Linked DNA regions of Homo sapiens: all the other regions are linked to region 2. The links come from fine-mapping of genetic effects on gene expression. A gene starts in region 2. Each other region holds a variant in brackets. All regions are shown on one strand. Distances are from middle to middle. Region 1 overlaps PLCB1 (phospholipase C beta 1). Region 2 holds the start of PLCB1 (phospholipase C beta 1). Region 3 overlaps PLCB1 (phospholipase C beta 1).

Region 1 (2,764 bases), 310 kb before region 2:
AGCAGGGCCTCACCCTACAGGATGGATGGTCTTCCACATCGGCCAATAATTTTACATTTGAGAAAAACAGAGCCCATGGTTAGGACCCACAGTCAACTGCCAGTTGCATTAAAACTCACGAGATGGCCAGGTGCTGTGGCTCACGCCTGTAATCCCAGCACTTCAGGAGGCCAAGGCGGGCAGATCACGAGGTCAGGAGTTCAAGACCAGTCTGACCAATATGGTGAAACCCCATCTCTACTAAAAATACAAAAATATTAGCTGGGTGTGGTGACGCACACCTGTGGTCCCAGCTACTCGAGAAGGTGAGGCAGGAGAATCGCTTGAACCCAGGATGCAGATATTGCAGTGAGCTGAGATCGTGCCACTGCACTCCAGCCTGGGCAACAGGACGAGACTCCATCTCAAAAAAAAAAACAAAAAAAAAAACAAGAAACTCACAAGATAATTTTATAATCAAAGCATTAAATGCAATTTTTCTACTTTCCTGAAATCTGGGCTTTGCTAAGTCTTTCCAAGGTGTGCTACTATCCAAGGGAATAACAAAGACTTGGTAGCCATTCCATCATTATTAGGATTTTCCCAGCATGCTTGGTTTTCATATTTGGCTGTTTTACTAGTTTCAATGTCATGGCAAGGTACTTTAATCTCCTGAGTTTAATTAATAAAACAGAAAAGATTTGAATAGATAATATTATACATTTTGATAACTCAAGAAATGTCCATCTGAATTACCTTCAAAAGATGATAATTTTGGACTGGGATTTCACTAACCCTTTGTTACAGATATTCATTGGACTGAGCTTTAAATTAAGAAAAAATGGGACCTTCTCAAAAACATAATGTTTGTTATTGCCTCAGTATGTCCCCTCTAAAATTCAGATGCTGAAACTTAATGGCCATTGTGATAGTATTAAGAGGTAGAACCTTTAAGAGCTGATTAGGTTATGAGGGCTCCTCTCTCAAAGATGAGATTAAGGCCTTTATAAAAGAGGCTTCATACAGGGTTTGAGCCCACATCCCACCATGCCAGGACAAAGTGTTCCCTCCTCTAGAGGAACCATCTTGGAAGCAGAGAGCCACCCTCACAGACAACGAAACCTGCCGGCCCCTTGAACATCTCAGTATTCAGAACTGTGAGAAAATAAATTCCTGTTCTTTAGAAATTATCATCTCATGTATTCTGCTGTAGCAGTACAAATGGACTAAGATAACCAAGAAGTAAAAATTAAGTATTTAAGACATATTTTTTCTAGAAAATTCTCAAAATAAAAATAAGGAAAAAACTACAGAATCATTGAGCCATGTCTTGAAAACACATGCACACATTAACAAATGGAATATATTCAATTATTTTATTTCTATATTCTAGATTCAATCATATTCAGTGTGTCTTCTGCGTATGTGTGTGTGTTTTAAATCTGAAGTCAG[A/G]ACTAGAACAAAGTATGTTTCTTGAAAATGGATTCCTTGTTTTCTATATTTATTTATCTTGATACAATGCTTCTTTGAATTAACTATGTAACAGTTATAAGGTGCTTTATTGCTGCTTAGCTAATCCTCCTGGATTGATATTTAAAAGGATTTAAAATTTTTTTCAGATATAAAGAGTTTCATGATCATCCTTCCCTAAGACAATCTCAAGAGAATGCTGCCCTCTCCCCCTCCTCTATCTGCCCATAGGAATTTTTCTGTTAAAAGAGTGATCAATATCTGAGAGATCGTCTGTTATGGTCGGTCACTGCTTATGTTTCACACCTGCCTGGTTAATTGGTAGGCAAACAGTGTTTCATTCAGTCCCTAGCGTTCATGCAAAACCGTCTGTATTTAGATAAACTTTCAGTCACTTAGCAAACCTCCAAAATAAAGATTATTTATTATTTCTTATTGATATAAATTGGAATTACAACGATCAGATTTCTTACTTTGTGATCAGATTATCTTTGCAACTAGTAAATTGCAAGGTGTCAAAGTTCTTGACTGCAAAATGCACTCAAAGCAATTTTCTCTTGAAGCAAATCACTCCACCTTTAGAAAATTCATACCAAATTCAGAAAATCTTTGGCTGACAGTCTGGTATCAAGCTCTTCTGTAAGTATCCTATTATGGTCGGTAAGTGTAAAAATTGATATTTTCACATAGATTTCAACTATAATTCTGTAGAGCTAACCATAGATGCCTAATGCCAATGAATAAACAATGTTACTACTTTACTTGGAATATTACTGGTTAGAAACAACGATTTAATTCTAATTGTAGATATCAATAATAATTGGAACATTGTCAAGAAATGTGGCCACGTATTTGTGGGTATATACTGGATTTCTTGTAATGCTACCTTTTTCAAAAGATCACTCCGTTGAATGACGAGAGTAAAGTTTCTTGAATTTTTTCCACCTCAAGTCCCTCTGCTGTAAAATGGTGAGGCTGGGTTAATTTCTCTTTTTAATTTAATTTCTTAAATTGACACATAATAATTGTATATATTCATGGAGTACATAGTGATGTTTCGATCCATATAACATATAGTGATCAGATCACGGTAATTATCATATATATATATATATAAAATCAAAAACATTTATCATTTCTTTGTGTGGGGAACATTAAATATCCTCCTTCTAGCTATCTGATACTATATACCATATGATTGTTAACTTTAGTCTTCCTGCAAAGCTATACAATACTAGAATTTATTCCTCCTATCTAGCTATAATTTTGTATCCTTTAACAAGTCTCTCCCTAACCCTCCCTTCCCCCAACCCTT
Region 2 (2,764 bases):
TCAAAAGTCAGCCCTCCCCACTTGCCTGCAGGCCCATGAGCCCTCCAGGACCCCTCAAGGGCCCCCATTCTGTTCACGCCCTCCCCAGATGTGTCCCCGCAGCCCTTTTCAGGGACCCTCACTCCGGAGCCAGGCGCTGAAGTTTGGCATCAACGACCACCTGTTGGCTGGACCGTTGTGTCCTCCGCCGCCTTGGCTCCCACAAAAGCGCCAAGAGGGTTCGCAATCACTAAAGTGTTTTGAACTTCAGGTCCTTCCTTCTTGAAATCGGGCAAAAGAGGTAATAGGGGGTGCGTCCGCAGGCGGAGAGGGACGCGATTTGTTCACACCAGGCGCTTTCCAGTTGGTCCCAACTTCACACTCCCTACTTTCCGAACTCTCAGGACCTGTCACCAGGCAAAGCTTGCCCCTCCCTCTCCACTGGCCCAAAAGATGTAAGACCCTCAGGGGGCGCCTGCCAGACCCAGAAAGGATGGCAACTACTGAAGCCCGATGAAACAGGAGCGCGCGCAAAGCTTCTGCCCTTGGACATCCGCTTTGGCAGATGCCAACCTGTGCGCCCGAGGCTGCCCCTGCCCGCTCCCAGTGCGCCCATTGCATAACGCGCCCCTTGCCCCACCCCCACGACGCCCGCCCTGCCCGGTGCCCGAGCCAGCGCCCCGACTCGGGCCGCCCCAATACTTACATCATCCCACTTGACGAATTTGGTGCCCTTCTTGAGGCTGTCGGACACGCACACGGGCTTGAGTTGCAAGGCGTGCACTCCGGGTTGAGCCCCGGCCATCTGGGCTCATCTGGGCTCCGGGCGGCCCGGGCGAGCGCGGCAGGGACTGGGGACCGTGCGCGGGGCGCGGGGCGCGGGGCGCGGGCTCCTTTCTCTGCTCCGGAGGCGCTCGACTCTGCTCCCCGCCGGCCTCCCCGGCCTCCCGGCCTCCGCACCTCCCTCCGGCGCCGCTCAGCAGGCAGAGCGCGCGGGGGCGCAGCGCCCGGCCATGCCCCGGGCGGGACGCGAGGTCTGGAGCCCGCGGTGGATGAGGAGCCTCGGAAGGCGAAGAGAAGCCGAGCCGGTCAGCCGAGGCTGCCAGTCGCGGCGGATTCTGCTCCTCCGCCGCCGCCGCCTCAAAGCGCACCATTCAGCACATCCTCTATACACAGAGGGAGAGAGCGAGTGACACACGCCCGGCGCCCCCCCTAACCGCTCTTTTCCCTCCTCCCTCCTCCTCCCCCCCGCCCCCCTTCCCCGCCACCCTCGCTCGCTGGGTCCTTCCTTCCCCCCGCGGCTCCCAGCCCAACTTTGCACGCTGGGTCAGGCGCCAGGAAGCGGGGACGCAGCGGCACCTCCTGGCTCCCGAGCCCCATTGCAGCCAACGCCTGCCTCCCGCATTCGCTCTGAGCATGCCCCGTGCCCTGGTTGCAGAGGTGCTAGGGGTCCCCAGGAGCCTTACGCTCTTTGGGGTTTTCTTGGGAATTTGGGCTCGAGCTCCGGAGCGTCTTTGGATCCCAACTGGCTGGGAAAAGGGGCCCATCGGGAGGAACCAAAGAGGCAACCCCTGGCTTTTGGCTCTAGCTGGAGCTCTCCAGCGCCAGCCACAAACCAGCTTTTTGAAGAGAATTATCATTTATCAGCAGAGAAGAGCGCAGTTGAGAGGCTCTTTGAGGAAACCTGGCCGCGCCTGAGAGTTTGCAGCGCGCTGATCTTGAAACCCGGGCAAACGGTTACGTTGTGCTTTCGAGACAGAAAGCCCATCCTAAAGAAAGCAAAGGTTTTATTTTCCGAGGAAGAAAGAGGGTGCCCTCTCCCGCTCCTCTCCTTGAGTGTGTAGGATGTGTGGCGGGTGGGGGAGAGTCTTATTAATAGAAACTTGCTCATTTAGGAACATAGGTCCAGGAATGTTTGTCTTCACTCCTTCCACAAACATTTCTCAATTCAAGAAAGAAAGGGAGGGAGGGAGGGAAGAAGGGAAAGAGGAGGACCAGAATGGATAAAATTTTAAAGACTGGTAATACCAAATGCTTGAAAGGATGTGGAGCAACTGGAACTCTTTTTTTTTTTTTATTAAGGAGAGAGAGGAGAGGGAGAGAGAGAGTGAGTGAGTGTGAGAGAGAGAAAGAGAGAGAGAGAGAGACACACGCGGGAGGTGGGGGGGCGGAGAGAGAAATAGCTTGGAACTCTTGTTCATTGCTGGAGGGAATATAAAATAGTAAAACCACTTTGGAGAATAGTTTCTTATAAAGTAAGATATTTACTTATCATACAACCTAGAAATTCCACTCCTAAGTATTTGTCCAAAAGAAATGAAAACGTTCAAGTCTGCAGGGACTTGTAAAGTGATGTGAAGAACTTTCTTCTTAGTAGCCTGCAAATGTCAATCAACAGGTGAATGGATAAACAAACTGTGGTATGCCCAAATATTGGAATACTATTCCACAATAAAAATGAGTGGGCATGCAAGATCAGGGATGAATCGCGACTTTAAGCTTTGTAAAAGAAGCCGGACACGATAGACTGTATGCTGCCTGATTCCATGTGTAGGAATTGCAGAATAGGCAAGATATTCTATGTTGACAGAAAGCTTGCCTGTGGCCAGGGATAGGTAGAGATGGACAGGGAAGGGCTACGAGCACCTGATGAGCATGTCGGAAATGTTCTATATCGTGTGTGTGTTTATCAAAACTTGTAAGTTCTGTAAGTACGCCTAAATTGAGTGCAGTTTGTTTTAAATAAATTATATCTCAAAAAGGTTGATTTTTAAAAAGAAGAAAG
Region 3 (2,764 bases), 330 kb before region 2:
TCACCCTGCACCTCTATGTAAAAGTCTGACAAGCAATTCACATTTTATTCTTCATGGCTTTTAATTCTATTGAAATAGGATTTGAACATTTCAAAGTGTAGACACCATGTTATTAGAGTATTTTATGGAGTGTCAAGCTCTGTACAAACATTATTTCATTCATCTGCATGATTTCCTTTCTGGAGTGGGTGGTGTGTTATTATTACTCTTGTTAAGTGGGATAAATTAGCTTGGAAGGTCAGCTTCTTTACTTTAAAGGAAGAACTTACTTAAGAGTCCAGAATGACAACCTCAAATGTCTTTCATCCCAGACAGGTAATGTAAATAAGGTAAGCAGGCCAAATTGAATATGCGATAAAAATGGATTTTGAAAAATTGGGAAATATATGCCCCCAAGTCTCTGTTTCATCTAAGGACGTTGATGTAGCATAGTGGTTAAGAGTGAAGGCCTGGGCAATTTCTTGTTGCAAAGAAGTATGCTTTCTCTTGAAATCAGCACATTTAGGCCTATGGGGAAGCTTCCTTTTTCTACCCATTAAGAAAGGGAAACATAATTTGTTGAAAGATAAAGAACCTAGGACATTAGAATTTTATGATTAAGATGGATGAGGAGGGAATGATCACTTACTGAGATGAAATATTCATGTACTCATTCAAAAAATATTGATTGATCATGAGAGATGAAATATACAAACGGACAATGGCCAGACAATATATGACAACAGAATTCTGAGCACCACCTCTGCAGCAACCAGCTGGAAGCCAAACCACAACCTCTACAGCAACTGGCCCCAACAGTCACGATACAGTCAATGACTGCCAGCTTCCCTATTCTTGGCTCCCTCCTTTCAACTCAGAATCAACCGGAGGAAGCAAGATCTGCTTCCCAAACCAACCACATCAGATGTTCACATCTAGTTAGCTCAACTCCAGCTTCCTCATGCCACAGCGTACCTGGAACCTGCTCTTTGTTTCACTCTAAAGGTTTCCTATCTTTCTGTGTTCCTTTAAGTCTGTGCCAAATGCAACTGATAGTGGTTGATTCTCTTGCAAACTCTAAATAAATCACCTCTGTTCTTGTTCATGTGATCTTCATTTATTTTCACAAGCATATTTAAAAATAACTTTATAAAGTGATCTGGTAAGAGCACAGAGAGGGAAATTCCACAGAGGGTAAAGGCAATGAGACTTGTGCAGGAGACAGCATGCCAGGAGTAGTAAAGGTGGCTGAGGGTGCCTGGAAGGCAAGATGGTGTGTACGTGTGTGTGTGTGTGTGTGTGTGTGTG[T/C]GTGTGCGCGCACACATTAGGGGTATAAGTAGGAGATGACTTTGAATAAAGAGACCAGGAATATCATGCAGTTCATTACTTGACAAACTTGGAATTCTCTATCCTAGTAATGGGCAATAATAAAAATAATTAAATAGACGACTGATTAAAATAAGATTTTAATAGGATTGAACTTGGATTTTCTGAAGTGTTACTCTAGCAGTGTGATGGAAGCTGGATGGAAGGTGGGCAATTTAGGAAATCGTTGCTGCAGGCCTAAACATTGGCAGTGGGGAGAGAAGTGAGGACAAAATAAGGAGATGAGAAAGATGTTAAGGACACACAACTGGCATTACGCTGGGTGAAGACAAGCAATGAACTGAGAGTCACTCTGGGTTTGTGGGTGGCATTGTTCATGGAATAACAATAATGAATGATGACTGGTAAGTGGTGGAGGTGGGACAGGAGGCCAAGATGACCCCTGCAAAGCTCATGTTACTCCCATTTGTATGCACCATGTCCCAGGTAGAGAGGGGACAGTGCTTCACACTTGAACTTGCTTCCAGCTGAGTCTCTTACACTTACAAAAAATAGGTGGCCTCATTAGGTAGCCCTTTTGCAGGTGGCATATAAAAATATGTTATCATATAAAAGTGCAGTTGGTTAAAAAATATAACTACCTCTAGAGAAGTCCATGTAAGATGATTTTGGTTAAAATGTGACTGACATGAAGAAATTTGCAGTAGACTCTTTATGTCCCAATCCAAAATTCATATGTTGAAATCCTAACCCCCAAGGTGATGATGTTCAGACATGGAGCCTTGGGGAAGTCATGAGGTCCTGAGGGTGATGCCCTCCCTCCTGAATGGCATTAGTGCCCTTATAAAAGAGGTCCCAGGGAGCTCTCTGGCCACTTCTCCCATGTGAGTTACAGTGAGAAGAAGGCTATCTGTGAGGTAGTGGGCTCTCACCAGACACCAAATCTGCCAGCACCTTGATCTTGGACTTCTCAGCCTCTAGAACTATGAGAAATTAATTTCTGATGTTAAAAATCTACCCAGTTTATGGTGTTTTGTTAAATCAGCCCAGGCTAAAGTGAAGGTAAAATGATTTTTGTTTCCTTTTTTATATGTGCTAAATCTATATTCTGTACATCTTAATTTTATATTGAAATTTATTTATTTTTCTCATAAAACTTGTGTTTATTAAAAGCAGGAAATACACCCTTTAAAAGACCAACCTATTTCTTTACTGCTACTCTGCAATGTGTAAAGACAAAAAAGAAAAAAAATTCCCAAAAACCAGTGCTACTAAACAAACTAACAATTATTTCACTTCTCAATGAAAAATAAAATACTCACCCCAAACTTTTCACTCGCAATTCACAGCAAAGATCGGAATTTACTTAACACTGCTGGGTACAAGCACATTCACCATTTTTTGCTCATGCCTATATCATCTCTCCTGTAACAAGCTTTTGGAGGGCAGGTCATTCTTC

What was found. PIP is the estimated chance that this variant, and not a neighbour inherited with it, causes the effect.
Region 1: its variant is the best candidate, but not a certain one, in a credible set for the expression of PLCB1 in whole blood (TOPMed, PIP 0.63).
Region 3: its variant is the best candidate, but not a certain one, in a credible set for the expression of PLCB1 in neutrophils (BLUEPRINT, PIP 0.54).

The regions. Positions count from the first base shown.
Region 1 is chr20:8,440,640-8,443,403 of GRCh38, reverse strand. The region is part of intron 3 of PLCB1 (phospholipase C beta 1); the gene reads right to left. It overlaps LOC124900459 (a long non-coding RNA gene), which reads right to left. Exons shown (of 2, transcript XR_007067518.1): 2 at 1-2,764. Among named protein-coding and RNA genes, the nearest start is that of PLCB1-IT1, 190 kb to the right of the region's middle. The variant A/G (reference allele first, on the strand shown) is at 1,432.
Region 2 is chr20:8,130,672-8,133,435 of GRCh38, reverse strand. PLCB1 (phospholipase C beta 1) reads right to left here and starts at 1,170. Exons shown (of 32, transcript NM_015192.4): 1 at 686-1,170. The coding sequence starts at 784. RefSeq lists a silencer at 945-1,084.
Region 3 is chr20:8,456,244-8,459,007 of GRCh38, reverse strand. All of the region lies in intron 3 of PLCB1 (phospholipase C beta 1), which reads right to left. It overlaps LOC124900459 (a long non-coding RNA gene), which reads right to left. Exons shown (of 2, transcript XR_007067518.1): 2 at 1-2,764. Among named protein-coding and RNA genes, the nearest start is that of PLCB1-IT1, 210 kb to the right of the region's middle. The variant T/C (reference allele first, on the strand shown) is at 1,288.